Regions from separate parts of the Homo sapiens genome. Here region 1 is linked to region 2. Evidence: fine-mapped expression QTL. A gene starts in region 2. The other region holds a variant in brackets. All regions are shown on one strand. Distances are between the middles of the regions. Region 1 holds the start of VDAC1 (voltage dependent anion channel 1). Region 2 holds the start of C5orf15 (chromosome 5 open reading frame 15).

The links. PIP is the estimated chance that this variant, and not a neighbour inherited with it, causes the effect.
Region 1: its variant is fine-mapped to the expression of C5orf15 in whole blood (INTERVAL, PIP 0.98).

What each region holds. Positions count from the first base shown.
Region 1 is chr5:133,997,458-134,014,583 of GRCh38, forward strand. VDAC1 (voltage dependent anion channel 1) reads right to left here and starts at 7,518. Exons shown (of 9, transcript NM_003374.3): 1 at 7,438-7,518. RefSeq lists enhancers at 6,242-6,291, 6,302-6,351, 8,002-8,121, 8,192-8,251, 8,292-8,361 and silencers at 6,582-7,621, 7,682-7,741, 7,782-7,831. The variant C/CA (reference allele first, on the strand shown) is at 9,785.
Region 2 is chr5:133,959,949-133,972,219 of GRCh38, forward strand. C5orf15 (chromosome 5 open reading frame 15) reads right to left here and starts at 8,677. Exons shown (of 3, transcript NM_020199.3): 1 at 8,498-8,677; 2 at 1-72. The coding sequence starts at 8,636. It overlaps VDAC1 (voltage dependent anion channel 1), which reads right to left. Exons shown (of 9, transcript NM_003374.3): 9 at 11,923-12,271. It overlaps LOC105379183 (a long non-coding RNA gene), which reads left to right and starts at 8,741. Exons shown (of 2, transcript NR_134247.1): 1 at 8,741-8,844; 2 at 9,803-10,275. RefSeq lists enhancers at 7,871-7,970, 8,601-8,820.

The DNA.
Region 1 (17,126 bases), 40 kb after region 2:
GAGGCTGAGGTGGGCGGATCACTTCAGGCCAGGACTTCCAGATCAACCTGGCCAACATGGCAAAACCCCGTCTCTACTAAAAATAAAAAAAAAATAAAAAAAAAAAATCACCCAGGTGTGATGGTGCACGCCTGTAATGCCAGCTACTTGAGAGGCTGAGGCACAAGCTTAAACCAGGAGGCAGAGGTTGCAGTGAGCCAAGATCATGCCACTGCACTCCAGCCTGGATGACAGAGCGAGACTGTCTCACAAAAAAAAAAAAAAAAAAAAAAGAATAAGGTGGATGTATGTGGTGGCATAGAAAGCTAGCTATGAAGCTACGATAGCCGTGCGCAGTGGCTCATGCCTGTAATCCCAGCACTTTGGGAGGCCGAGGTGGGCGGGTCACCTGAGGTCAGGAGTTCGAGACCACCCTGACCAACATGGAGAAACCCTGTCTCTATTAAAAATACAAAATAAATTAGCCAGGCGTGGTGGCGCATGCCTGTAATCCCAGCTACTCGGGAGGCTGGGGCAGAAGAATTGCCTCAACCTGGGAGGTGGAGGTTGTGGTGAGCTGAGATCGCGCCATTGTAATCCAGCCTGGGCAACAAGAGTAAAACTCCGTCTCGAAACAAAAAAAAAAAAAAGAAAGAAAGCTAGCTAGCTATGATACAGTTAAATGAAAAAAGTCAGAAAATTTGTAATTCCATGTAATTGGAGGAAAACCTTTTTACACATCTTTCTATGTTCATGAATGGATGGGAAAGCATGTGGAAGGATACAAGCCAATCTGCAAATTGGGGCTGGCTTAGATACGCTTCTGGAGAAGGAGGTTTAGGGAAGGAATGCACTTCAAATCGAATTTTCATTTTTTGTTCTGCTTCATTATTTAAGCTGTTTGTGTATACTAATAATTTGTTTAAGGATAAAGAATTTCAATACAAAAATTAGCCGGGCGTGGTGGTAAGTGCCTGTAATCCCAGCTACTTGGGAGGCTGAGGCATGAGAATCACTTGAACCCAAAGGCAAAGGCTGCAGTGAGCCAAGATCGTGCCACTGCACTCCAGCCTGGGTGACAGAGCGAGAGACTCCCTCTCCAAAAAAACAGCACTTTAAAAGCCAACCACTGTGCCTGAAATTGAGCTGTGTTGTGTCCCAAATCACGTTCCAAGGCTGCTGCAGTAGCAATGCCAGAAGGCTACCTAGAGTGTCCATACAGATTGCAAGAACAGATTTAAACTACACTGAGATGGAAGAGTTATCAGGCAAGGTCCGTCGGGGCACATTTCACTCCCAGGTGACCACTAGTGGCTTGGCCACCCTGCCAGAAATCATGAGCAGGAAAGAGCTCCCTAACTTCAGGGTGCACAAGAATCACCGGAGGCGCTTGTTCAAGAAGAGCCTGCCAGAAGAGATGGAACTCCTCCTGCCCTACCTCTCAGCCTGTGCCTAACAGGCAGGGCTGCCCCCAGGTGCCACTGAGAAGCAGCAGCTCAGGGCGGTTCCTGCACTAAGCACCTACCAGGCCCCCGCCTGGTAGAAATATGCTCTCTTCTCTGCAGAGGCTCCCTCAAAAGGATTCAGGCATGTGCCAGGCATGGTGGCTCACGCCTCTAATCCCAGCACTTTGGGAGGCTGAGGCAGGAGGATCGCCTGAATGCAGGAGTTCGAGACCAGCCTGGGCAATACAGTGAGACCCTGTCTCTTTTAAATAAAAAATAAAAAGAAATAAATAGTAATAATAGAAGGATTCAGGCAGATGAGCTTTGCACCCCTAGAGAGCCAACAACTACTGCAATGGTTGATACAGGGAGCAGGGTGGCCATGGGTCTCCAAGACTCAGCTAAAAACAGCTGGGAGGAAAGGCCTTAGGCCTAAGGAAGTTGTTACAAGGAATGAGTGAAACAGGCAGAACAGCAGAAGTATCTGGCATGGAGTAAGTGTTCAACAAATGGCAGTAATAACCATAATCCACTACACTGGATACTCTGTCTGCCCCTCCAGATCCATTCTCCTCCCTTCCACCCTGCTCTGTGCCCCCAGAACTGATCATTATGGACTGCTGTCCATGGGCTTATGATTGGGCTTAGCCTTTCAACGTGAGGTACTTGCAGAAGACGGGAGTTTAGGGAAGAATGAAGTCGGGGTACTCACCCCGAGTCTCCCTCCCTGCTAGGCTTCAGATGGGCAATGACTACCTTCCTCTACCCAAGGCCACAGCTCCTGCCAAGAAGCTCCCTCTCTTGTAGGCCTCAGGGTGTTAACAGACCAGACCTGACACCCCATCCACAGCTTTGCAAATGATGTCTTCATTAAACTCTCCTGGATTACCAAGTGTAAGTGTGCACCAGATCCCTGCAAAGACGCTAACCAACAGAGCAATCACAACCATCATCATCATCATTGCCATCATCTTATGATTCTGCCAAGGAAGAGAGTACTATGGAAAAGTCTCTGGCCCCGCTGTTTCACCAACACCATTCTAGGTGGTTTGTCAGGGCAGAACTAGGCCAGCCTATAGGAGGGGTATCAGACCAGCCAGTGATCACAGAAACAGCACCTCTTCCTAGCCCTGAGGACCAGGAAAAGCAACTTCCCCAGCAGAAGGCAACCCTAGCTCTAAAAGCCAACATGGGGGCGAACACAATCAGCAGCTCGCTCACACACATGCACGCATGCACACACACACACTCCAGCACTTTCTCTTTCTTGCCAGGAAGAAACAACCCAGGGGAACAGTTCCTGGTTCAAGCTCCAGGATGCTGGCAAAGGCTGATGGCCCTGTGTTCTGGTAGCAGGTCTGCGTACCCAATGCAGCTGTTCTCTCCCTCCATTCTTCCACAACAGTCTCGCAGTGGGCAGTAGAGCTTTCCAGGGGTAGCTTCTATTTTGAAACACCCTGGCAGCTGGGCCACCACCAGCACAGCTGAGTTCCATGCTGAGCTCCTGGGCTCAAGAGGTTGCTGACTCAGGGCAGCCTGCCCACCCACCTATCAAGGGGAGATGGCCTGCGCTGGCAGCCAGTACACTATGGTCTGGATCCCAGGCATACCTGGGGCTCCTACCTGACCTAAGGCACCTCAAGTTCCCTGGAGCCTCACTGCTTGGCTTGACCAGGTAGGGTTGAGACAGACAGTGCTTGGGCAGGAAGCCTCGGGAATCAAATAGACCTGAGTTCTAACCCACCCCACCACTTTCTAGGTATGTGACTTTGGGCAAGTCGCAACCTCTCTACTCCTTTTTCTTCAGCTCTAATATGGAGAAAGAGAGCCTGGATGGCGTCACTGTGAGGACTGAATTAGCTCGTTAATATACAACACTTGGTACAGTGGCTGGCGCTTGGTAAGCAGGGAATACACACAGTATTTTATCACAAGTTTTCATTTTGTATATTTATTATAATAATGGCTGCTAAGCATGTTCAAAAGGTCACCCTGAACCACAGGGTCCAGAGTCCTTCATGTCCACAATGAGGCATTGTTTAGCTGAACAGGTCCTGAAAGAATGCCTCCCACCAGATCCCAGGGAAAACGGACCCTTATAATAGACACTCAGCACCACTGTCCTTGCAAGAAATAGAGGTGACTCCATTGTCCACTGCCAGTTGGCCCGCACACAGCCATGCACAAGTTCACTCTGACTGGTGTGGAAAAATAATGTCTCCCATCTGAACACCAATTTTGACTTTCCAAAAGGCATTCACATCTGTTAGCACCTTGCAAGGGTCCCTTGGAGTGCAACTGCAATGTGAGAGCACCACCATTCAGACCAGGCCTTGAATCCCAACTCCACTCCTGCCAGGCTGTGTTACCTCACCTCTCTGTGCTCGAGTCTGCTGACCTGTGAAATGGAAACACACTATCTCTCTCCCAGGGTATAGGGTGGTGAACTCAACATCACAGAACATTCGTTGAGCCCCCAGAAAGGTGCTGAGCAAGCCCTCAATCAGCAATCACTGTAATGACGACAATCATACTTTTATAGCAGACAAACTCGGCCGGGCTCAGTGGCTCACACCTGCAATCCCCGCACTTTAGGAGGCCGAGGCGGGTGGATCAGGAGGTCAGGAGTTCAAGACCAACCTGGCCAAGATGGTGAAACCCCATCTCTACTAAAAAATACAAAAAAATTAGCCAGGCATGGTGGCAGGCGCCTGTAATCCCGGCTACTCGAGAGGGTGAGGCAGAGACTTGCTTGAACCCGAGAGGTAGAGATTGCAGGGAGCCGAGATTGCACCACTGCACTCCAGCCTGGGCAACAGAGTGAGACTCCATCTAAAAAAAAAAAAAAAAAAAAGAGAGAGAGAAACTGAGGCACAAGACAGTGACTTGACCTGTATGAGACCGACCCTATGGCTCACCAGACCTGTGTTATGGGCCTAAGCTACTCTCCAGTGCTCTTTCCAGCACAGTTCTGAGTAAAGAACTTAAAGTCCCACTCATCCCAAACCCCCTGAGTACGTGGTAAAATGGAGAAATGCGCCCAGACCCAGCTGAGGAGCCCACTGGTCAACTTTTCTCAGTGGCTACCACAGGACTCCATGGAAAACCCAAAGCCGCAGACTACAGAATCTCTGAGCACCAGGAGGGGCTGCCTCCAAGCTTCGGCTGGTCCTCAACCACACATGCGCCTCTTCCAGTCACTACCACCGAAGACACTACACCACGGGAAATTCCATCAAAGGCGAAGTGGACTTCAGTGCTTCAGGAGCATCTTCCTGGTAAGGGTAGAGGTTGGATGCCCTTCACCTCCCCAGCATGGAGTTCACTGTCCACACCTGCCTAGTGTTCAGCAAGGCCAGGGGCCCACAGGCACCTCATCCCTGTATGGTCCCCCACTTTCTGAGCTACGAATAACCCCTGCCTATAGCCCCACTCTAGAATAGCAAAAATAAAACTAAATAATCAACAAGGAGTAGTCCCCACTACCCACAGGCAGGCACCCTACTCAGGACAACCCCAGCACAAGCTGTCCATCCACCCACCATGAGGGAAGGGGTAACAGGCCCAACACCTTCTGTAGAATCCCAGTCACCCATGTCACCCTCCCTGCAAGCCCAGAAACACCAGTTCAACAAGTTTCCCTCGGGACTTGGAAAACCAGAGAATGAAGACGATGTGTTTAAAGCACTTATTTCAAGAGACTATACATACTGTTACAGTTCTTTAAATATTTGTGACTCTCTGCTAGGTGAGGCTGTTTTCCACAAGTGAGATGTCTGTGTCCCTCAAAAGGATGTCCAGGACCGGGCATGGTGGCTCACGCGTGTAATCCCAGCACTTTGGGAGGCGGAGGCGGGTGGATTGCTTGAGGCCAGGAGTTTGAGATCAGCCTGGCAAACATGGTGAAACCCCGACTCTACTAAAAATACAAAAATTAGCCAGGCGTGGTGGTGTGTGCCTGGGATCCCAGATACTCTGTGAGGCTGAGGTGGGAGGATTGCCTGAACCCAGGAAACAGAAGCTGCCATGAGCCGTTATGGTGCCACCGCGCTCCAGACCTGGCAACAGAGCAAGACCCTGTCTCAAAAAAAAAAAAAGTCCAGGATCAAAGGACTATGGTCTGGGCCTGCAGCCCTTCATATGCCCATTCAATAATTCCACAAATACTCAATAAGCACCTACTATGGGCCATGTACTGGAATAGTAAAACTCTGTCAGTAAAGATGGGTGGATTCTGACACAAGAGTGCATTTACCCCCACAGACCCTTCTCAAGCACCTACTGTGTGCCAGGCAGCACCACCCCAGGCACTGAAGACAAAGTAGCACAGGGCCTCAGTGCCTCAGTCTGACCCTTAGGAGCTGAGTTGGTCCAGAGCTGGGGTGGGCAGAATGAAGGCTGGCCCTCGGTAGTCTGCTCTGGCCTTCTCCTGCCTCAGTGGAGAAGTTTAGGCAACAGAGGAGCCCTTTCCCCTATCTCCCCAGGAGAGGGGAGGCTAGTCAAGGGGACAGGGACCCCGGGCGGAACGGGCTCTAAACCAGGGTCTGCTCCTGCATTCAAGATCTCCACATGCAAACTTACTGCTCCAGCTTGACAATGTCCATTTGTAAACTTACAAGATTTTTCATAAATTAAGCTGAAAGTTACTCAATACCTGGTATACAAATGCTTGTCAATAATAGTGAAAGAATGTTTAAAAACAGGAGCTACATTTATTGAACCCCTTCCACAACGCCACGTGTAGCAAAATGGTCTGCGGGGGATGGGCTGGATTCACCCAAAAAGCCCCAAGGGTGTCAGGGTTTCTACTTAGCCCTTCTCCACACCGGCACTGTTCTAAAGGTTTCATGCTAATTAATTCATTTTATTATTCCCCAAAACTCATCGAAGGAGAGGTACAATTGCTCCCGTCCTATAGATGAGAAAACGAAGGTATGGGGACTTCCCAGCTGTGTGACCTTGTACAAACCACTAAGACTGCGGGCCTCTAATCCAAAGTCAGGCTCCGAAACAGTTTCCAGAATGCACCGCCGCATTTGGCGAATGAATGAACGACCGAACCAGTAATCACTCCTAAGACCAAGAAGGCCACATCCTTCCCCGTGGGGCCTCCTTTTCCGAGGCCAAACCTTCAGCCCAGGCCCGAGCTCCGGCCTCTACCGCCTAAGTCGACTCTCGGCCGGCGCGTTCCGCTCTAGAAGGCTCTGGCACAGGCGGGCGGTGCCGGGCGCCAGCTTCTGCGGGCGTGGGCCGGCCAGGGCGCGTGGGCCTGGGGACTCGGGGCCACGGTCGTCACGTGAGCTCATCCCCGAGGCGGCAGCGTGGCCGGCACCCGCCCGCTGGCCTGGTCCGGCGAGCGTGGGCGGCGAACGGGTCCCCGCCGGATGCACGCTGGTGGGATCCAGGGCCAGAGGGCGCCGCCGGGGAAGGTCACCTAGACGCGCGGCCCGCCGGGCCTCCACGCGGCCGCCCTTGCACTTCCGCCCGCAAGCCCGGGCCGCCTCTCGCCGCCAGCCGCAGGCGTCTCTGGACCCTCGGCCTCGCGCTCCCCAGCCCAGACCTGTTCGGCACCCGCCTGTGCGGCCTTCTCTGCCCGCCCGCTCACCAGCCAGGCCCGCGCCGGCCGCTCGCGATCCCTCCCCGCGGCCGGGCTGCCGGGGCCCCTCGCCCGCTCCTCCCTCAGCGCCTCCCTCTCAGCTCCCCAGGGGCCTGGCCCCCGCCGTCCAGGGCGCAAGGAAGCCGGGGTCCTTTTCCGCTGCGCCTACCTCAGAGGATGTGGCGGCGGGCTCGGAGGCGGCTACGGCGGGGGCTGCGACGCGGAGGCAGGGAGCCGAGCCAGGGAGCGGAGCCGAGCGAGCGGCTGGGCCAAGGGCGGGGCGGCGCGGACGGCGGCGGCGCGGACCCGCCTCCCCTCCTGCGCGCCCGGCCCGGCGCGCTCCGCCCCCAGGCCCCGCCCGGGACAGCGTCCAGGCCGGGCCAGGGTCCCCATCCCGCTAGCGAGCCGCGTTCTTACCCTTCCGGGCCCCGCTGCCCCGGCAGCAGACACAGGAGCCTGCGGGCGTGTTGCGGGCGCGCGGGAGGACCTGCGTGAGTCGGGGCACGGGGAGGCGCCGGACTGACGTGTGCACCGTGTGTGCGTGCGCAGGGACACGCGGGTTCTTGCTGGAAACCTCGGCCCCAGTGGCAGCGCTCGGGAAGGGGGAGGAGGCCTTCCGATTCTCTGAGCTGTGGCCCGGAGGTCCCTGCGCTAATGGAAGACGCGCGGGGCTCCTGGGCCTCCTGCTTGGCCTCCGCGCTGCTAGATCCCCCGGGAGTTGATGTGGCCGGCGCTGGACCCAAGCCTCGCCTGGGTGGACAAAGTGGCCCCCGGCCCCCCATCAAAGCCCGCGTGGGCCCCATCCCCCGAGGGCAGTCCCAGGCCCAGCGCGGACACTGGGCGCCTGGGGCGGCGCAGATACAGAGTAGAGGCGGCGACTGTTGCTCCCGAGCTCCGCGCTCCGGATACAATGTGTCTGGCGCCTCCGACCCGCCCGCGCGGCGTCTAGACAATCTCAGAGAAAACCCCTGTGCGCCGATTTTGCACTACAGATTAGCGATTTTCTCCTGTAGCAAAGCTACTAGCAGCCAATTTCCATGCATTTGAGAGGCAAAAAGACAAAATAAAACAAAACGTGGATTGGGTTTTGCGAGGTCCCTGCTGGGTCTCTCGGCGCGAGGAGATCACGCCGGTTATGGCCGGCCGGCCGACTGAGGGCACCCCGGGTAACCCCCGCGACCAGCCGGGGCGTGTCCTGCGGGACCCAGTTAGTGTGTGTTGAGTGAACGGTCACCTCGCTGCTAGGCCTAAGCGAGTGGTCTCGTTCACCACTGAGTGTCCCCTGTGTTACGCGCGAGGCCCACTCGAAGCAGGTTTCGAGAATTAATTCGTAGATGGACGAAGATTCTACACATCCTTCGCCTTTGATCAACAAACGTCCTGGAAGGCTTGAGGCGTCTAGGGCCCTGTGGAGGAGGTGCCGGGTTACAGAATCAGGACACTCCTCACAGCCAGCTGCGACACTATCTAAAGCAGTGGGCAACTGGGGCTACGGAGGAGGCAATCAGGACTGGCTGCTGGGAAAAGGCGGCAGATTAAAAGTGGCGACTGGAGTTGGAAAAGGTGCTCCAGTGGGATAGGGTGCTGAGGAAGAGGGCAGCTGATACAGAGTGGGAGTGGGGTGCAGACAGGTTACCTAGGCCCTGTGTAGGGGCTGGGGGAGGGGTGACTGGGAATGTAAGGAAGAGCCCCCTTCAAGATCCTGAGGAGTGTAGGACGGATTCTATGACCCTCCCAGGCGCACGAGTTGCCTGGGAACTCTGGGCTTCCCAGCCTGGTGGTCCCCACCCCGCACACTGAGACTGGTGGGCAGGGGGAGGACAAGAACTCAGGGAGGCCGGGCGGGACAAGGCGGGGCTCCAGGAACCCCACAGGGCTAGGAACAGATGCCGGTGCAACCCAGTTTTGAGGCTGGGAGCAAATGTCGAAGGGCTTCCTCCCCTCCAGCGCCACCTCTCAACTCCGCTTTAAAGAACCAATCTGGGCCGGGTGCAGTGGCTCAAGCCTGTAATCCTAGTACTTTGGGAGGCCGAGACAGGCAGATCACTTGAGGCCAGGACTTCGAGACCAGCCTGGGCAACATGGCAAAACCCTGTCTCTACTAAAAATACAAAAACTAGACGGGCGTGGTGGCGCGCGCCTGTAGTCCCAGCTACTCAGGAGGCTGAGGCACGAGAATCGCTTGAACTTGGAAGGAGGAGGCTGGAGTCAGCTGAGATTGAGCCGCTGTACTCCAGCCTGACTGACAGAGTGACATTGTCCCCCCCCCCCAAAAAAAAAAAACAAAAAAAAACAACAACTTGGAAAGAGTTCTTCATGGCCTCTGCTACCCTGGGCCCCTTCGCCAGCTCCCCTAGGTGCTAGTTTCAGATTAACCACTCACTTAGTGGCTGCGTGACCCAGGCAAGAAGGCTGGCCTCTAAGAGCCTCAGCTTCAGAGTGTTGGTGTAAGTTTAAAATGGGACACATAAAGAGTAGGCACTCGGCCCCGTGCAGTGGCTCACTCCTGTAATCCCAGCACTTTGGGAGGCTGAGGCGGCTGGATCACCTGAGGTCGGGAGTTCGAGACCAGCCTTACCAACATGGAGAAACCCCGTCTCTACTAAAAATACAAAAATTAGCCGGGCATGGTGGCACATGCCTATAATCCCAGCTACTCGTGAAGCTAAGGCAGGAGAATTGCTTGAACCCAGGAGGCGGAGGTTGCGGTGAGCTAAGATCTCACCATCACACTCCAGTCTGGGCAACAAGAGCGAAACTCTGC[C/CA]AAAAAAAAAAAAAAAGAAAAAAGAGTAGGCACTCATCAGTAACTGGGCCAGGCTCAGAGGCACATGTGGGTAATCCCAACTGTTTGGGAGGCCAAGGAGGTAGGATGGCTTGAGGCCAGGAGTTCGAGGGTGCAGTGAGCTAGCATCCCACTACTGCACTCCAGCCTGGACCACAGAGCAAGTTCCCGTCTCAAGAAATAGTATTAGTAATTTTTTAAAAAACAAAATCAGCTGAGATCTGCAGGTGCCATAATCACTAGAATCCATTGACCCACCACAACCCTGAGGGAGAGGGGAAACCCCCTGAGCCCCACCTCCATTCCATCTGCCACAGCTGATTGGGTCAGGGTTGGGCCCCTGACCCAAGCCAGGTCAATCAGATCCTCTCTTGCAAACCTGAACTGAGAAACCCAGGGATGAGTATGGCAGAGGGGAAAATGCGGGAGCTTTCAAGGCCCTTGGGGAGACCTGGGTCTGGCATCCCTGTCGGTGTTGCGAAGTTAACGAGGGCTTTTCACAGAACAGAGAATGGAGCAGCCGCTGCAGAGGGTGGCTCTGGGCCCCTGTTCCTTGAGTGCCCCCCTGTTCTTGCCATGCGTGGGTTTCCCTGTTCCACTTCAATAACCCCACTTGAGCTTGACCCAGCTAGAGCAAGTCCCTGGCGAAGACAGTCAAATCTTGGTGGGTGGAGAAGGAGGTTTGTGGGGACAGGACAATCCTAACCTCAGTTTTTCTCTGGGCGAATGACCCTGTTTCCCTCTCCTTTTGGTCAGCAAGCTTTCATGGAGCTGACTCCATCCCTGACTCCAAAGCCTTCCTGGGAGTGGCCACATGGCCCAGTCTGACCAATTAGAGCCCTGTATACCTCTCCTGCCCCCGCCTCTCCGCCCCCACATCCTGGCCTCCCACCGCCCCCGATCCCCGCCCCGCAGGGATGGACCAATGAGACCAGATGAGAATTCCTGGGGCTACAGGAATAAAGACTCCCTGAAAATGAAGTAAGCCCATAAGAGAAAGGCAGAGATGAGGTCCTGAATCTAGCCATGCCGGAGACTACACCCTGTACTTACCAGCTGCCTGAGCCAACGGCCTCCTGTTTTGCCTAGTCCAGTTTGGATTGTTTTCTTCCAGATGCTAACTCAGTTCCTCTCCTCCATTCAAGAAGAACAATGTAAAACATCCAGGGAAAATGAGATTTTTCTTTCATTGTTAATATTGGAATGGGTTACCAATGTAAGACTATTTCATTTTAGGGAGTTTTTGGTTTTTGTCTTATCTCTAACTTACAGCCTTAGGGCTTCTACTGTAGATATTTATCAAAGTGGAAAGCAGCCAATTTATGATCAGAATCATAAACCTATTCCACCCCCCTTTCAAGAACATAGGATGAAACACTCCCAACTCTTCTCTTTTCAGAGCCAGATGTCCCTGGATTTCTATGTGGTTTCTTAGCATTGTCTGTGCTAAGTACCAGAGCTTGAAGATGAAGTTCATGAAGGCAGAAATGGTAGTCATTTATGTAAATTAATTTTTAAAGAGAAAGATATTCTGCTTGTAACCAGCATCAATTAATTGGATTATAAAGTTGCATTGTCATAAAACCTAACTTTCCAATCATTTTCCAGTGAACTCCTCAGACTAGAGTCTGGGTAGGAAGAATCAAGATGGCGTGTTTGTGGTCAAGGATCTCAGGCCACACTCCCCACACTGTGCCCTGACACTCAGCATCCAGGGAAGGACCCAGCTGGGCCTCCAGGTTCTGAGTGACAGCAGTAATCTCTTGGGGAAACAGGACAGAAAGCATCCCAAGGTAAACACAATTGATAATATTCTCCTGCATATCCCAAAACATGAGGTGTCCTAGATCTAATCTAAAACAATTCCAAGAAGCTCCAACATCATAGCTATGATTTTTAAGAATTTTGTATATATATACACAGAGAGACAAATATTGGAAAGAAATGTATTAAGTATTAATGAAGTATTTATGGGAATTTATCAATTCTTTTTTTTTTTTTTTTTTTTTTTTTTGAGATGGAGTCTCTCTCTGTAGCCCAGGCTGGAGTACGGTGGCATGATCTTGGCTCACTGCAACCTCCGCCTCCCAGGTCCTGGTTCAAGCAATTCTGCCTCAGCCTCCCAAGTAGCTGGGATTACAGGTACACGACACCATGCCCAGCTAATTTTTGTATTTTTAGTAGAGATGGGGTTTCACCATGTTGGCCAGGCTGGTCTCAAACTCCTGACCTTGTGATCTGCCGGCCTCCGCCTCCCAAAGTGCTGGGATTACAGGTGTGAGCCACTGCACCCAGCCAGAATTGATCAATTCTTATAAATTGAAACATAATTATTAAGTTGTGTTTCTATTTATGAGACTATGAGTGATTTTTTCCTTTGGCTCTTTTTACATTTCCCAAATATTCTTTTGTTTGTTTGTTTTGTTTTGTTTTGTTTTTTGAGACAGAGTCTCCCTCTGTCACCCAGGCTGGAGTTCAGTGGCACCATCTCGGGTCACTGCAACCTCCACCTCCCGAGTTAAGCTATTCTCATGCCTCAGCCTCCCAAGTAGCTGTGACTACAGGTGCGTGCCACCACGTCTGGCTAATTTTTGTATTTTTAGTAGAGATGTGGTTTTGCCACGTTGGCCAGGCTGGTCTCAAACTCCTAACCTGAAGTAATCAACCTGTCTTGGCCTCCCAAAGTGCTGGGATTACAGGCATGAGCCACCAGGCCCAGCCTCCAAATATGCTTTAATGAGGACATAATACCTTGATTATAAAAAGAGCGAACTTTTTTCAGCTTTAAGAAAGTCATATGAGGTTCATCAGGAGATGTGTAAAGTGATACAATCCTTCTGAAAAGCAATTAGGCTATATGCGATCAGAATCATAATCCTATTCCACCCCCCTTGATGCTGGGAACCCACGCTAAGACCATCATTGTAAGTATGGGGAATGCCTGCTGCAGGAAAATGGACAGCAGCCCAGGACGGAACACAACCTGGTTTCCAGCTTGGGCATATTGAATCACTCACAACCTTGAGGAAATATGGTTACAAAAACTTCCTGTGGGGGTCCGGGCGTGGTGGCTCACACCTGTAATCCCAGCACTTTGGGAGGCTGAGGCGGGCAGATCACCTGAGATCAGGAGTTTGAGACCAGCCTGGTCAACATGATGAAACCCTGCCTCTACTAAAAATACAAAAATTAGCCAGGCATAGTGGTAGGCGCCTGTAATCCCAGCTACTCGGGAGGCTGAAGCAGGAGAATGGCTTGAACCCGAGATGCAGAGGTTGCAGTGAGCCGAGATCACACCATTGCACTCCAGCCTGGGGGACAAGAGCGAGACTTTGTCTCAAAACAACAACAACAACAACAAATTTCCTGTGGGGAAATATTTCTGTTACAATGTTAATGGAAGGCAATCTATGTTCAGTATTACTTCAACCCCAACATTAAAAACTGTGGAGGCAAACTATGGTAAGTACAACAATGGCCCCCCAAGGATATCCACATCCTACTCACTGGAACCTGTGAATGTAAAAAACAAACAAAACAAAACAAAAACTACTTCATTGGGATAGGATTGCATACAAAAAGCTGTACATATTTAATATATATATGTTGATGAGTTTGGAGATAAGTATATTTCCATGAAACCATCACCACCGTAAAGCATATAAACATACCCAACACCTCCCAAAGTTTCCTCCCCTACCCCCATTCCCTTTTTTTTTTTTTGTAGGGGCACTTAAGATCTATCCTCTTGGCAAATCTAAGTATACAGTGCAGTATTGTTAGCTGTAGGCACTGTGATGTATAGTAGATGATGATTAGTGATGATGAACATTTTTTAATATGTTTCTTGGCCACTTGTATGTCTTCTTTTGAGAAGCACCTGTTCATGTCCTCTGCCCACATTTTTTTCTTTGTTTTTAGTAGAGATGGGATTTTGCCATGTTGCCCAGGCTGGTCTCAAACTTCTGAGCTCAGGCAGTCTGCCTGCCTCAGCCTCCCAAAGTGCTAGGATTACAGGTGTGAGCCACTGCGCCCAGCCCCCTCTGCCCTCTTTTTAATGGGGTTATTTGTTTTTTTGCTTGTTGAACTCTTTAAGTTCCTTATAGATTCTAGATATTATACCTTTTGTCAGATGCATAGATCTCCAGAATTTATTTATCTGGCGTAACTAAACCTTATACCCTTTGATCATCACCTCTCCATTTTCCCTTCCCTCCAGCCCTGAAGATTACCATTGTACTCTCTGCTTCTATGAGTGTGATTATTCTAGATTGTACATTTAAGTGAGATCATACAGATGTTACGGATCTTGACATGGGGGGATTGTCCTAGATCATCCAAGTGTGCCCAATGTAATCCCAAGAATGTCATCACAAGTTCTTTTTTTTTTTTTTTTTTTAGACAGAGTTTTACTCTGTCACCCTGGCTGGAGTGCAGTGGCGTGATCTCAGCTCACTGCAACCTCCGCCTCCTGGGTTCCAGCAATTCTTATGCATCAGCCTCCCAAGTAGCTGGGATTACAGGTGCCCACCACCAGGCCCGGCTAATTTCTGTATTTTTAGTAGAGACGAGGTTTCACCATGTTGGCCAGGCTGGTCTCAAACTCCTGACCTCAGATGATCCACCCACTTCAGCCTCCCAAAGTGCTGGGATTACAGGCATGAGCCACCATGCCCGGCCTACAGTTCTTATAAGAGGAAGACAAGAGGGTCAGAGTGAGAGAAGGTGATTTAATGACAGAAGCAGAGCAGGGCAGGGGTGGGGAGAGAGACAGAGAGAGAAAGAAAGAAAAAGAGAAAGAAAGAAAAAAAGAAGAAAGAAAGAGAGAGATTGGAGATGCTACACCGCTAGCTCTGAAGATGTAAGAAGGAGCCATGAGCCAAGGAATGCAGGCAACCTATAGAAGCTGAAAAAGACAAGGAAACAGATTCTCCTCCCAAGGCCTCCAGAAGGAGGGAGCCCTGATGCCCACTTAATTTTAGCCCAGAGAGACTGATTTCAGACTCCTGACCTCTAGAACTGTAAAATGATAAATCTGAGTTGTTTAAACCACTGAGTCTGTGGTTCACAGTTACAACACAATAGGAAGTGTTACAACAGCAATAGGAAACTAATATACAACCTCTAAAAGACAATTCTAGAAATGATTTATTAGAATGGGGCTATAGTATGAATGTTTACTCCCAAAATTGATATGTTGAAATCCTGAGTCCCAAGATGACGGTATTAGAAGGCAGAGGTTTTGAAATGTAATTATCATTAGGGCAGAGGCCTGAGAGCTTGTTCACCCTTTCCACCATGTAAAGACACAGTTAGAAAGCATCATCTATGTGACACAAGCAAATGGAAAAACACTCCATGCTCATGGATTGGAAGAATCAATATCATTAAAATGTCCATACTGCCAAAAGCAATCTGCAGATTTAATCCTGTTCCTATCAAACTAACAACATCATTTTTCACAGAATTAGAAAAAAAACTATTATAAAATTTATATTAAACAAAAAAAAGAGCCAGAATAACCAAAGGATCCTAAGCAAAAATAACAGAATTGGAGGCATCACATTACCTGACTTCCAACTATACTAAAAGGCTACAATAACCCAAACAGCATAGTACTGGTACAAAAACAGACACATAGACCAATGGAACAGAATAGAGAACACAGAAATAAAGCCACCCTCCTACAACCAACTAATCTTCAACAAGTTGGACAAAAATAAGCAATGGGGAAAGGACTCCCTATTTAATAAATGGTGCTGGAATAACTGGCTATCCATATGCAGAAGAATGAAACTGGACCCCTGCCTATCACCATATACAAAAATTAACTCAAGACGGATTAAAGACTTAAATGTAAGACTTCAAACAATTAAAATCCTAGAAGAAAACCTAGGAAATACCCTCCTGGGCATCAACCGCGGCAAAGAATTTATAAATAACTAAGTCCTCCAAAGCAGTTACAGCAAAACAAAAATCAGCCTGAACAACATGGCAAAAACCCGTCTGTACAAAGAATACAAAAATTAGCCTGGCATGGTGGTGCACACCTGTAGTCTCAGCTACTCAGGAAACTGAGGTGGGAGGATCACTTGAGTCCAGGAGGTCGAGGCTGCAGTGAGCTATGATCGCACCTCTGCACTCCAGCCTTGGTGACAGAGTAAGACTGTGTCTCAAAAACAAACAAACAAACAAACAAAATTGACAAGTGGGACCTAATTAAACTTAAGAGCTTCTGCACAGCAAAAGAAACTATCAACAGAGTAAACAGACAGCCTGCAGAATGGGAGAAAATATTTACAAACTACGCATCTAACAAAGCTCTAATATCCAGAATCTATAAGGAATGTAAACAATTCAACAAGCAAAAAACAAAGACCCCCATTAAAAAGTGGGCAGAGGGCTGGGCACGGTGGCTCACACCTGTAATCCCAGCACTTTAGGAGGCCAAGGCAGGCAGATCACCTGAGGTCAGGAGTTCAAGACCATCCTGGCCAACATGGTGAAACCCCATCTCTACTAAAATACAAAAATTAGCCAGGCATGGTTGCGGGCACCTGTAATCCCAGCTACTCGGGAGGCTGAGGCAGGAGAATCACTTGAATCCGGGAGGCGGAGGTTGCAGTGAGCTGAGATCGTGCCACTGCACTCCAGCCTGGGTGACAGAGTGAGACTCCGTCTCCCATCCCACCCCCCGAAAAAAAGTGGGCAGAGGACATGAACAGGCACTTCTCAAAAGAAGACATACAGCCAGGCATGGTGGCTCACGCCTGTAATCCCAGCACTTTGGGGGGCCAAGGTGGGCGGATCACCTGAGGTCAGGAGTTTGAGACAACCTGGCCAACATGGTGAAACCCCGAGTCTACTAAAAATACAAAAATTACCCAGGTGTGGTGGCACGCGCTTGTAATCCCAGCTACTCAGGAAGCTGAGGCAGGAGAATCACTTGAATCCGGGGCGGTGGAGGTTGCAGTGAGTCGAGATCGTGCCACCACACTCCAGCCTGGATGACAGAGTGAGACTCCGTCTCAAAAAAATAAAAATAAAAAGACATACAAGTGGTCAACAAACATGAAAAAATGCTCATCATCACTAATCATCAGATAAATGCAAATCAAAACCACAATGAGTGCCACCTCACGCCGGTCAGAATGGGTATTATTAAAAAGTTAAAAAATAGTTGTTGGAAAGGCTGCAGAGAAAAGAGGATGCTTATACACTGCTGGTGGGAATGTAAATTAGTTCAGCCAGTGTAGAGAGCAGTTTGGATATTTCTCAAAGAACTAAAAATAGAACTACCATTCCACCCAAAGGAAAATAAGTC
Region 2 (12,271 bases):
AAGCATTCACATTTGGGGTAGAAATATGTGAGTTGAGTACGGTTGGGCTCGGTGAATCAGTCCGTGATACAACTGAAACAAACAAAGAATATCAAACTGAAATCTCCAACTTTATCTCCACCAAGCTAAAAGCATATTTACCCAAATTTTACACTAAGCATTTCTCTCTGCTACATTCCTATAACTTTCTCGAAAACTAGTTATTAAGTCTCAATAGCCAGCATTCAGTTACATTTCTTCTTAGTCAGTTATTCTTCAGATAATAATTGCTTTGCTAGATACTAACAATTTAAGCAGCATAAAAGACCTACTGCATCATACAGCCTGCCACCAAAAGAAAAGAAAAAGGGCTGACTTTAAGTCACGATGGCAAAGTTCACATACAGCCCTCACCCATCCCCTCTGTTTTCATTTCATAAAGGGTGTGGATTTCAGTTACCTTGTCCAGACTTTACCTGATCCCTAGAACAGACCAAAAAGTGGCTGATTCTCACTCAAGTAGGTCCCAAAAAAGATATGGAGTTTGGACCTAAATACTTTCAACACAACATAACAAATTCAGGGGAAGCTATAGGCATGCTGTAGATAGTAATTCTAAGTGATACTTGAACTAGAGGACTCCCTCTCCTAAATTCAAAAAAAAAGAAGGATCCTTACAAAGAAGAAAAAACTTCTAAAGGAGAAGCATCCGAAACGGGAACCTGAGAGCTAAGTGACAACTAGACTATTTTGAAGATGAGGGAAGGCATCTAGGTATAGCAAATGACACCAAATACACACACATTCTTATTTCCCTGTGCTGCTACCTACTCAGCATAGTTTACTAAAGGTAAAATTCTTTACATAAGAATTCTTACTATTCTTTTACCAAGAAGAATGAATAGAGGAAGATTCCAGAGGAATCCCTGCCGAAATTTAACCATCTCTAATTTATAATCTAATGTAGTATCTGTTGAAGAACTTCAAGGACCTCTACTACACTAAAAAAATAAAAAAAAAAAACCTCTGTCATGTAGATCTAAACATATTCAGACAATATTTTAAAGTCTATCACATTAAAGTAAAATATTTTATAGGGGTAAGATTAAACCAAGTCATTCTAGTGCTTTCACAAACATGTGCATTCACACAAGTTAACAATCCAACAGACAACCCTTTCTTCATGTGAATACACTCTGGTTTGTGTACCACAGTTGACATCCATTTTGTGTAGAAAAAAAAAGAAATAGCTGGTGTCAATTAGAATGAACAGAGGATCTCAGAAAAATAATGTAGTCAGTTAGTAAAAAAAAAAAAAAAAAAAAAAAAAAAAAAAGGCCAGGCCCTGTGGCTCACGCCTGTAATCCCAGCACTTTGGGAGGCCGAGGCAGGCTGAACATGAGGTCAGGAGCTCGAGACCATCCTGGCTAACATGATGAAACCCGGTCTCTACTAAAAAATACAAAAAATTAGCCAGGCATGGTGGCAGGCACCTGTAGTCCCAGCTACTCGGGAGGCTGAGGCAGGACAATGGCGTGAACCTGGGAGGTGGAGGTTGCAGTGAGCCGAGATGGCGCCACTGCACTCTAGCCTGGCCGACAGAGCAAGACCACATCTCAAAAAAAAAAAAAAAAAACCAATAAATTAGTAAAACTCTCTTTTTCCCTTTTTTTTTTTTGACAGGGTCTCACTCTGTTGCCCAGGCTGAAATGCAGTAGCACAAACATAGCTCACTGTAGCCTCGACCTCCTGGTTTCAAGCCCCCCATGTAGCTGGGACCACAGGCACATGCTACCCTGCCTGGCTTTTTTTATTTTTCATATATTTGTCCAATGCCATATGCAATTTTTTTTTTTTTTTGAGACAGCATCTTGCCATGTTGCCCAGGCTGCTCTCATATTCCAGGGTTCAAGAAATCCTCCCACCTTGGCCTCCCAAAGTACTGGGATTACAGTAAAACTCTTAAAACATTTTCAATAATTGAGTTCCTTGAAATTTTTTACTGGAAGAAAAGAGAAATAAACAGGACCTACAACTCAGTACATTACTCAGAAAACTACTAACAGGAATTTCTGAAAATAATTTTTGCATTTATCACTTCAACTTAGTTATAATTCAAGAATTTAAAAATTATTATTTTCTGATACATTTAATTTTCCTGCCAAAGTACAAAAAACATGTTTTAAAATAAAATTTAAAATTGAAATAAGTGGGAGCCAACTAACTAAACTTAACTTTTAAAAGAACAATTTTTCCATGGGTAAGTACCTTTAAAGGACACAAGCTGATAGGGTGGGAATAATTATAAAGAAATTTCCACCACGCAGTATAGAATTCACAGTCATCAGCAAATCCCTTCTTTCACCCTTTGCTTTCTTGTTATTACTGAAACCTGACTCTCCCTTAAGGACACATTTTCCTTTCAGCCTGTTTAAGTAATAGCTGTTTTTTCTCCCACATCCTTGAACCACTGAATCTCAAGGAGGCACAGTTCTCCTCCTCATTGCCCTTTTCAGACCATTCTCCCGTTCTTCTCCCTAAATGCCTCTAGCTTTGATTCTCTTATCTTAAGCTATAATGCACTAACTTACTTTCATCCAACTCCAAAGTCATGCCCCCTAATTCTTAATGATCTTTAGCTCCTGGCTCTAGAGTTCACTCCATCTAAGACAAGTACTCCTGCCTTGATTTCAAAATCTTTGACCTCCTCTCTTCTCATGAGCTAGCCCTCCTCTTTACCTCAGCCACTCACTCCCAGAGTCATTATTTATTATCACAATTCTTCCATAATCTCAATTTCATGCATTCTACTTGCTGGCAAGACCTCCTATCCTTCCAGTTCATTCCCTGGTATTCTCAATCCATAAACACCTACAACCCTCTAATCCTTTTCATTCCCTTACGGTCACCATCAAAACTTGCCCAATACACTCTCTTCTCTCTTTATTCAGATTCAATTCTGTGTCAGCTATTATAATTGCTTATAATCACTCTCTTACATCCATCTTCAATTCCCTTCCCCCTTGTCCACTTTGACCCATTCACTTGGTGAGACTACACTCATCCCTAGTTATTAATAAATCAAGCTCTCTGACTACTCACATCTGCACCCAGCAGCTGAACATGGCTAGAAAAAATATACAACCATGCCACTGTTTTCATTTCATTTTAAATTCAATGCCAAAGATTCAGGTGTATGTTTAAAGCTGTTGGCAATTAAAATTGTTGGCAATCATATTTTCCTAGTCCATTTACCCTTCTACTCTCTTAGGACACCAATCACATTTTCCTCTAACCACAAACTTCAAATGTCTTCTCTGTTATCCTCATTTTCAACTGATGACATCACTTCCTAACTTTTCTGAGAAAAATTAAAAGAACTTCCAAGAACGACCAGAATTCTAGACTCATAAATCCAACCACCTACTTGACATCTCCTCTTAGATGTCTGACATTCACATTAATATGTTCAAAATGAATTCTGGCTGGCTTTCAGGAAGACAAACACACTCTTCCCTGTTTCTCCCACTAAAAACAACTAAAAGCTCTGAACATTATGTATAAAATAACACAAGAACACTCTGAAAGGTGGAAAGAACTGGGTAGAACAGTTAGAGACCTCAGGATATGTGAAACAACATGGTGGTGACTTCCTTAGGTTTTTCTTTTTACCTCATATATCCCAGGCTAAAGACAAAAAATAAAAATGGCAGACTTCAGCTCTAACATATCCATAGTGCAGTAAATGTAAATGACCTAAATACATCAATTAAAAAACAGAGACTGGCAGACTCAACTACATGATGTCCATAGAAAGCTCATTTTATTTTTTTCTTTTTGAGACAGGGTCTCGCTTTGTCACTTAGGCTGGAGTGCTGCACAAACACATTCATAGCAGCTTTATTCATAATAGCCAAAAACTGGAAACAATCAGGCATCCTTCAACAGATAAATAAAGTGTAGTCTACCTATACCATAGAATATTACTCAGCAATTTAAAGGAACAAACAACCAGGACTGGTGGCTCACACCTGTAATCTGGGCACTTTGGGAGGCCAAGGCAGGTGGATCACAAGGTCAGGAGTTCGAGACCAGCCTGGCCAAAATGGTGAAACCCCATCTCTACCAAAAATACAAAAATTAGCTGGGTGTGGTGGTGTGCACCTACAATCCCAGCTACTCTGGAGGCTGAGACAGGAGAACTGCTTGAACCTGGGAGGCGGAGGTTGCAGTGAGCCGAGATCGTGCCATTGCACTCCAGCCTGGAGTGCAAGACTTACTCTCGAAAAAATAAAAGTTAAAATTTAAAAAGGAACAAACTATTGACACATGTAACAACCTAGGTGAATCTTCAGAGAATTATGCTAAGTGAAAAAAAGTCAATCCCAAAAGTTACATACTGTATTATTCCATTTATGTAAGATTCTCAAAATTACCAACTTATACAAATGGATAATTTGTGGTTACCAGGAGTTCAGGAGGGGTGAGGTAGGAGGGAAGTGGGGTGGCTTTATAAGGGCAATATGAGATATCCTTGTGGTGATGGTAATGCCCCGTATTTTGACTGTACCAATGTTAATATCCTGGTCGTGATATTGCACTATTGTTTTGAAAGACGTTACTATTAGGAAAACTGGGTAGGGGATATGCAGGATCTCTATATTATTTCTTACAACTGCCAAGTGAATCTATAATTATCTCAAAATAAGTTTAAATAAATTCCTATGCCCCACTCAAAAAACAAAAAAACTTGTTCTACTTAGTCTCCATCTCAATTAATGGCAACTACATCTTTGTAGTTACTAAAACTAAAAACCTTGGAGTTGTCATTTTTTTTAACATCCCACATCCAATCTGTTATTCTGACATATGCAGCATTTGAGGGCTTTTCACCCTCCACTGCTCCTGCCTCATCCAAGTAACCATTATCTCACATGGATTATTACAATAGCCTCCTAATTAATCTGCCTGCTTCCACCCTAACTTCTACTGTCTATACTCAACACAGCAGCCAGAGTCATTCTGTCAAAACTTAAATCAAATGTTACTCCTCTACTTAAGACCCTCTAGGGCCATCCATTTCTCACAAAAGTGAAAATTTTTATAATAGCCTTCAAGATCCTACATGATCTGGCCCCCATTACCTCACTCTCATTATCTTACTAATCTCCCTAACAGCTCTATCCCCATTACCTACTTAATAGATAGCAGGCACTCAATAAATATTTATTGAATATGCTCTCGATTCAACTCTCACCACAAATCCCACACCACATCCCACATAGCATCTATGCACCTACTGCACTCCCTCAAGAGCCCATGCCATGGTTCTCAGCAAAACGCCACTCATTCTTCTAAGGATACCCCCAGTATCACCCTATTCATTGTTTAACTCCAATACCTAGCACCAAGTAGGAGCAGAATGTCTTAGTCAAGCAGTAAAATCTTGGAAGTAATACACAAATACAGCACAAGAAAAAACAAATAATTGACCTGAAACATGTAATACAAAGGCTATCAACTTACTCAAACTCCTTCAAATCAGAGAAGTTGATTAAGTCAGATATGAAGAGTATTCAGAACAAAGGTACAACTCTGACTTTACGGATTTAACTGTTGACCTTCTATGAGCATATAAATAAGACTTCTAAATCTTCCCTTTCCTAATTGATATTACCTCTCTACTTGAAGCTTAACATTTTAAAAATAAAGCTTAGGCCGGACACGGTGGCTCACGCCTGTAACCCTAGCACTTTGGGAGGCCAGGGCAAGTGGATCGCTTAAGCACAGGAATTCAAGACCAGCCTGGCCAACATGGCAAAACCCCATCTCTACAAAAATACAAAAATCAGCTGAGCACGGTGGCAGGCACCTGTGGTCCCAGCTATTCAGGGGGCTGAAGTGGGAGGACTGCTTGAGCCCAGGAGGCGGAAGTTGCAATGGGCCAAGTTTGTGCTACTGCACTCCAGCCTGGGCGACAGAGCAAAACCCTGTCTCAAACAAACAAACAAAAAAGGCTGGGCACAGTGGCTCAGGCCTGTAATCCCAGCACTTTGGGAGGCCAAGGCGGGCGGATCACGAGGTCAGGAGATTGAGACCATCCTGGATAACACGGTGAAACCCCGTCTCTACTAAAAATACAAAAACTAGCCAGGTGTGGTGCGCGCCTGTAGTCCCAGCATACTCGGGAGGCTGAGGCAGAAGAATCACTTGAAACCGGGAGGCGGAGGTTGCAATGAGCCGAGATCACGCCACTGCACTCCAGCCTCGCGACAGACTCAAAAAAAAAACAAAAAACAAAACTTTATAAATTTAATTCTCCCCTTCTACTGGTCCCTTTTTAAAAACTGCCCTAAAATAAAACTATATCAGCATTTCTTAAACTTAAGAATGCAGAGGACCCCGAGAACTCATTCACACACTGGTTTGAGAAACAATGCCTTAAAAATGAAATGCATTATACATTAAGTTTAGGTGATCATTTGGGGACAATATAATGGCAAATGTAGAGAACCAGGCATTTTTGAAATGGCATGACCAAGAATTAGTCACCCAGTGATCCAAACTGCTTATGTTAATTTTTTAGACTTGATCAAAACAAAAACATAAAACAAAAATTCTTACAGACTGACGAGCATATAACCAAGCATTGACAGTTTTTAAAACCTAATATGGAACAAATTTAAATAAATCTAATGTGGTAACCTTCTACCTTTGTAAACTCACTTGAAATTTGGAACTCAACACATTCTAGACTAATTTTCTTATTACAGGAGTGACTACTTTGAAATTATAAGGTATGCTTACAAAAAATACTTATATCCCAAGCTACACTGTAGTGCAGTGGAGCTGCTCGCCTATTAAAGACATGTATGTTCGTTTTCATTTAGCTTCTTTTCAGGACAGAATAATCTGAATTTATGACATTTTAAACTGGTGTATGTAAAGACTTAATTTAAAAGATAAAGATTCTCTAAAATGTCTCAGTATAGTTAGAAAAATATTTATAGGGCTCTAACAAATAAAAGCAGAGACTAAAGGACACTTAACAGTCCACATTCTGCCTCACTTCTTGCCCAATTTTCAACCATCTCTTAGGGGAAAAAAGCTGTTTCTGAAACTACAGTTGCCAGATATATATCCCTTAAGCATTCCAGCAGGAAATATAAATGTTTGTGTTTTATTTTTCTTAGATGATTAAATGGCCAAAACAATTAAGCTACTTAAGTACTTTAGGAACGGGAATATCTGCATCAACCAGGGAAATCCTCATTACATTTCACTAATGATAAAAGGGCCTTAGGAAATGGACAGCAGTCCTTCCTCAGGGACTGCAAAGACTTCTGGGAGGGCGTCCAGTTAGCAACACTGAAATGTTGCTGAGGAAACATAAGTATGTACCCACAGTACTGTCGCAGAGGAATGTAGGGCTGGACAGGCCCTGCTGGCAAGAAAGAAAACACTATACCAGGTCACACTGTTTTGCAGCTGAAAATTCAAATTTAGGGAGAAACGCAGGACTGTGTCTTGGCCTGAAAGAAAAATGGGACTACTAAACAAAATACCGTTTAATCCTTACAAGTTCTTAATAGTGGATTTTTCCCACCAAGTATCAGGCACTGGTTTACAGATTTCCTAATTTCTCAATAAAAGCCTTCAATCTCTTGATTTCACCATGCAACATTTGCAAGAAATGAAATATTTTATCAATCAAATCCTACAGATGCATTAAAACGAGGCAGGGTTATCCTGGTTAACTCGGAACACAGGGAAGAGGAATCATGATCTCCCTTGTCTCCAAACTCCTCTCTGCCTCCCAAGCCTTCAGGGGCCCAACGCCCCAGTACTCTGAATCTTTATCAAACACCAGAACCTCCCAGTCTTCAAATATGCACCAGTACCCTAAGACAGCTCTTTCCCTTTCACTTTCCCTCTCGGAAATATTCCATTGGTTCAGTCCAGTCACTGGATTACTGCCCCTGCCCGCCTCGGTCTTTACCACTGACCTCTCCCATTCTGGAAAACCCCCACCTTTCCTTGGTCCTGCAAGATTCCTGAGTCCCCCAAACTCAGGACCCTTTCCAGACACCACACCCCCAGCCCCGGCCACCTCCTCAGCCCCTGTCGCCACCCTCTCTTCCAGAGTCTCCTAACTTTCCGATCCAAGAAATTTTGGAGACCCCACCACCGCCATTCCTTGCGGCAGCCCATTCTTCAACGATCTCTAGGCGCTAACACCACTCCTCCCTCCCCGCCCATCTACACACCCTGCTGCCTGCTCCCTGGGTTCCTGCATCTCTCAGGGACCCCGCTTCTCAGGCCCCTTGGAGACCCTACCACCTTGGACCCCTTCAGACACCATACCCTCCGTCCTCAGGCCCGCGGAGACCCTGACCCAACCAGACACCGCCGTCTGCTCCTGACACTTGGAAGCGCCCTTTCCCTGGCCCGGCCTGTCTCCTGCCCTGCGCCCGAGCCCTCCTAGCCTTCCTAAGCCCACACTGCCGCCCCCCTTTACCACTGGATAGAGCGGCGGACACAAGCAGGAGCGCCAAGACCAGCGGCCGCGCCAACCCCACAAGGGCTTGGATGGCCGACCCGGGCAGCAGTTTCGCTTGTGCTGGCCCCCTCATCCTCTTCGGGACGGCAGCGGCCATAACGGACTCGGCTGGGAGCCTGCGCTGTTGCTAGGCTCTACGCCATGAGGTCAGACGCCGCGGCCCTCGGCACATACGTCCCAGCGTGGTGACGTCGAAGCCTGGAGACGTGCTCTGGAAACCGGAATAAGAAGGAAGGATTGCAGGGAGGAGGGAGTTGCCGCTAGGCGAAAGTGGGGACCGCCACACAGTTGGCTGCGGATTAAAGGTAGGGTGTGACGTGCTGAAGAGGGCCAAAGCGAGCCCCTCCCTGCCGCCTGCATGATTGGGTACTATACAGCCAAAAATAGCGTTTTTAGCCATTTTAAAAAGGAAGATCCAGCTGTAGAACAGACTGATCACGAAAGCGAAGTAACTGCTCTTCCTCTCTCAAAGGCGAAAGAAACACAAATGTTAAGTAGTCCTATTTCGGTGATGGGATTATAAGTAATTTTTAAAAATCTTTCCCGACAGTCATTTATTTTTTTTCAACAAAGATTTAGCACCTCTCCCTATTTAAGATACAGCAGTGAACAAAAAGAACCCCCCACCCCCCCGCCCGCCTTGGCAGTTTATTTTCTTGTGAGGGCGAATATGGTGTAAAATACACACTATACAAGATGATAAAGATATTATGGACCGGCCCTAGTGCAGTGGCTCCCAGCACTTTGGGAGGCCGAGGAGGGCAGATCACCTGAGGTCCGGAGTTGGAGACCAGCCTGGCCAACATGGAGAAACCCCGACTCTACTAAAAATACAAAAATTAGCCAGGCGTGGTGGCGCGTGCCTGTAATCGCAGCTACTCGGGAGGCTGAGGTAGGAGAATCGCTGTAACCCGGGAGGTGGAGGCTGCAGGGAGCCGAGATGCCACTGCACTCTAGCCTGGGCCACAGACTCCGTCTCAAAAAAAAAAAAAAAATTATGGAGGAAAAGAAAGGAAGGTAGCTAGGAAGTAGAGGTGAGGGGCTGCCATTGAAAATAACTTTCAGATTTCCTAAAATAAGCTTCTCTTTTTAAATTTTGTTACTTGAAATCCCCAGTGTATAAAAATGCAAACTTACAAACTTCCAAGAAGTTCACCTAGGGCCCTGGCGCCATACTTTGCTCTGTGTGTACGTTCTGTAAATGTCTCCTTAATAAACAGATACAGGCTTCAATTCATAAAAGTTCCATTTGATCAATTTCAGGAAAATCAATGTGACGTTAAGCAAGACATTTATTGTGCCCACAGCTTCACCATTCTGGTCTCTATGATTCCCTGCGAAGATTGCTGTTATCCCCCAGAGACACAGCTGAGCTGTCTCTCTAAAGGGCCTGTGTTCTACTCCTGAATCTGGTTTCCCCTAAGCTTTTATCTCACCCTGGTGACAGCTCAGAAACACACAAACTCTGTGTTAAGAAAACTAAGAAGTCATTCATCTGCACATTTCCCGAAATCCCCCAGAAGCCCGTATTAGACTGAATGGTGTCCTTATTGCAAACTCTCCACTTTAGCCAAGGTGCAAAGTCCTCCCAGTCCCCCAGGAGCTTCCCTTCTCTGAGCGGTACTTAAGTTTTCTGTAAAACCACTCAGTTCAACAAATGAGCTTCTCAATCTTAGTTTCTGCTTGTTGACTTTAAAGTTAATCTATAATAAACACACTGCAGTCCTCTTCCCTGACTCATTGTCCACTTTGTCCATTTGTGTCCTCATACCAGATTGTCTCAATTCTCTTAACTGGTGAGATATTATGAACTCAAAGCATTTTGCACAATGATATTCCAACATGCTGCATGCAACAAGCAGACAATAAGTAACTAGTGAGGGAAATATTCCCTCATACTCAAGAGAACCCTTTATACATTTTTAAATATTTTAGGGCCAGGCTTATGCCTGTAATCCCAAGTACTCGGGAGGCTGAGATGGGAGGATCACAGGAGCCCAGGAGTTCAAGGCTGCAGTGAGCTATGATGATGACAGTGCACTTCAGTCTGGGTGACAGAGTAAGACTGTCTCTAAAAGTAAAATATCTTAATACTGTACCTGACATCTGACTAGATGTACCCAGCAACCACTATGTGCCATAATCTCTGGATAAATTCTATGAACATTCACTTAGAAATAGCTGCAAGTCCCTGAAGACAGTATGACAAATACTGAGGCCCACAGTTTTTGGGTGATCAGTTGCATAAAATGCTAAAATAGATGGTTCCTGTTTTGAATGTCACTTTCAAACATAGAAAAAAAAGGAATTCTGCTGAAAAATCATGAATGGAAAAAAATGTTCATATTTGTTGAAGCTGGATCATGCATAGAGTTTATTACTATTTGTGTTTCCACAATAGGCTGGATGTGGTGGCTCACGCCTGTAATCCCAGCACTTTTGGAGGCCAAGGTGAGCAGATCACCTGAGGTCAGGAGTTTGAGACCAGCCTGACCAACATGGAGAAACCCCATCTCTACTAAAAATACAAAATTAGCCGGGTGTGGTGGCAAATGTTTGTAATCCTAGCTACTCGGGAGGCTGAGGCAGGAGAATTGCTTGAACCCAGGAGGCGGGGAGGCTGAGGCAGGAGAATTGCTTGAACCCAGGAGGCGGAGCTTGCAGTGAGCAGACATTGTGCGCCATTGCATTCCAGCCTGGGCAACAAGAATGAAACTCCGCCTCAAAAAAAAAAAAATCCACCATCAAGTTATTAAAAACATATAAATATATGGGAGAATTCCAAAATCACCCCTTCCCATGACCCATATGGAGGGACCTACAAACATGAAAGGATATTACCAGTGATTAGGTTACTTTACCTGGCAGTTAACTTGAAGGGAGATTACCCTCATTGGGCCTAACCTAATCAGGTGAGTCCTTAAAAGAGTTGGGGCTCTACCTGGAGGAGACTGGAAGTGTGAGAGGGATTTCACATGAGGGAGTTTTTCTGTTTCTGGCTTTGGCGATGGAGGGGACCCCATGGCAAGGAATGCTGGCATCCTCTGAGCACTGAGAGTGGCTCAGCCAACAAAGAAATAGGGACCTCTGTCCTACAACTGAAAATAACTGAATTCCACCACAACCCTGAAAGCCTGGAAGAGGACGCCAAGCCCCCAGATAAAATGAGAAGACAGCCTGGTCGACACCCTAATTCCAGCATTGTGAGAAGCTAAGCACAGTCCAGGTAGGCATGCACACCTGCCTCGCTTTGACCTGCAGAACTGTGAAATAAATGAGTGTTGTTTTAAGCTGCTAAACATATGGTAATCTGTTGTACAGTGAGTGAAAACGAATAATATATAATACACAGAGCATGAAGACAAAATAAATCTAAACAAATGCCCTGTTTATTTATATTTTATTAATAAAGACAACAGAAGAAGGATGAGGTTTCAATATTTTATTCAAGTTTTTTAAGTGTTGTTAATTACAGCATTTGAAGGGGAGGATCTAATTCCAACAAAATGGAAGACTCTAAAATGTACCCATTAAACTGCTAAAAAACAAATTGAGTGGTGAGAATACAACAGAAGTCCAATTTAGATTCTGAGTGTTGTCACCATGTGATTACAATCACACAGACACTTCCAAGCTTATAGCTGGAGCTCCTGGAAGCTATTTCATACTCTGGTGCAAGGGCCAAAAAAAAACACAACACAAGAAGGAATAAGTCCTGAATTATTGGCTTCA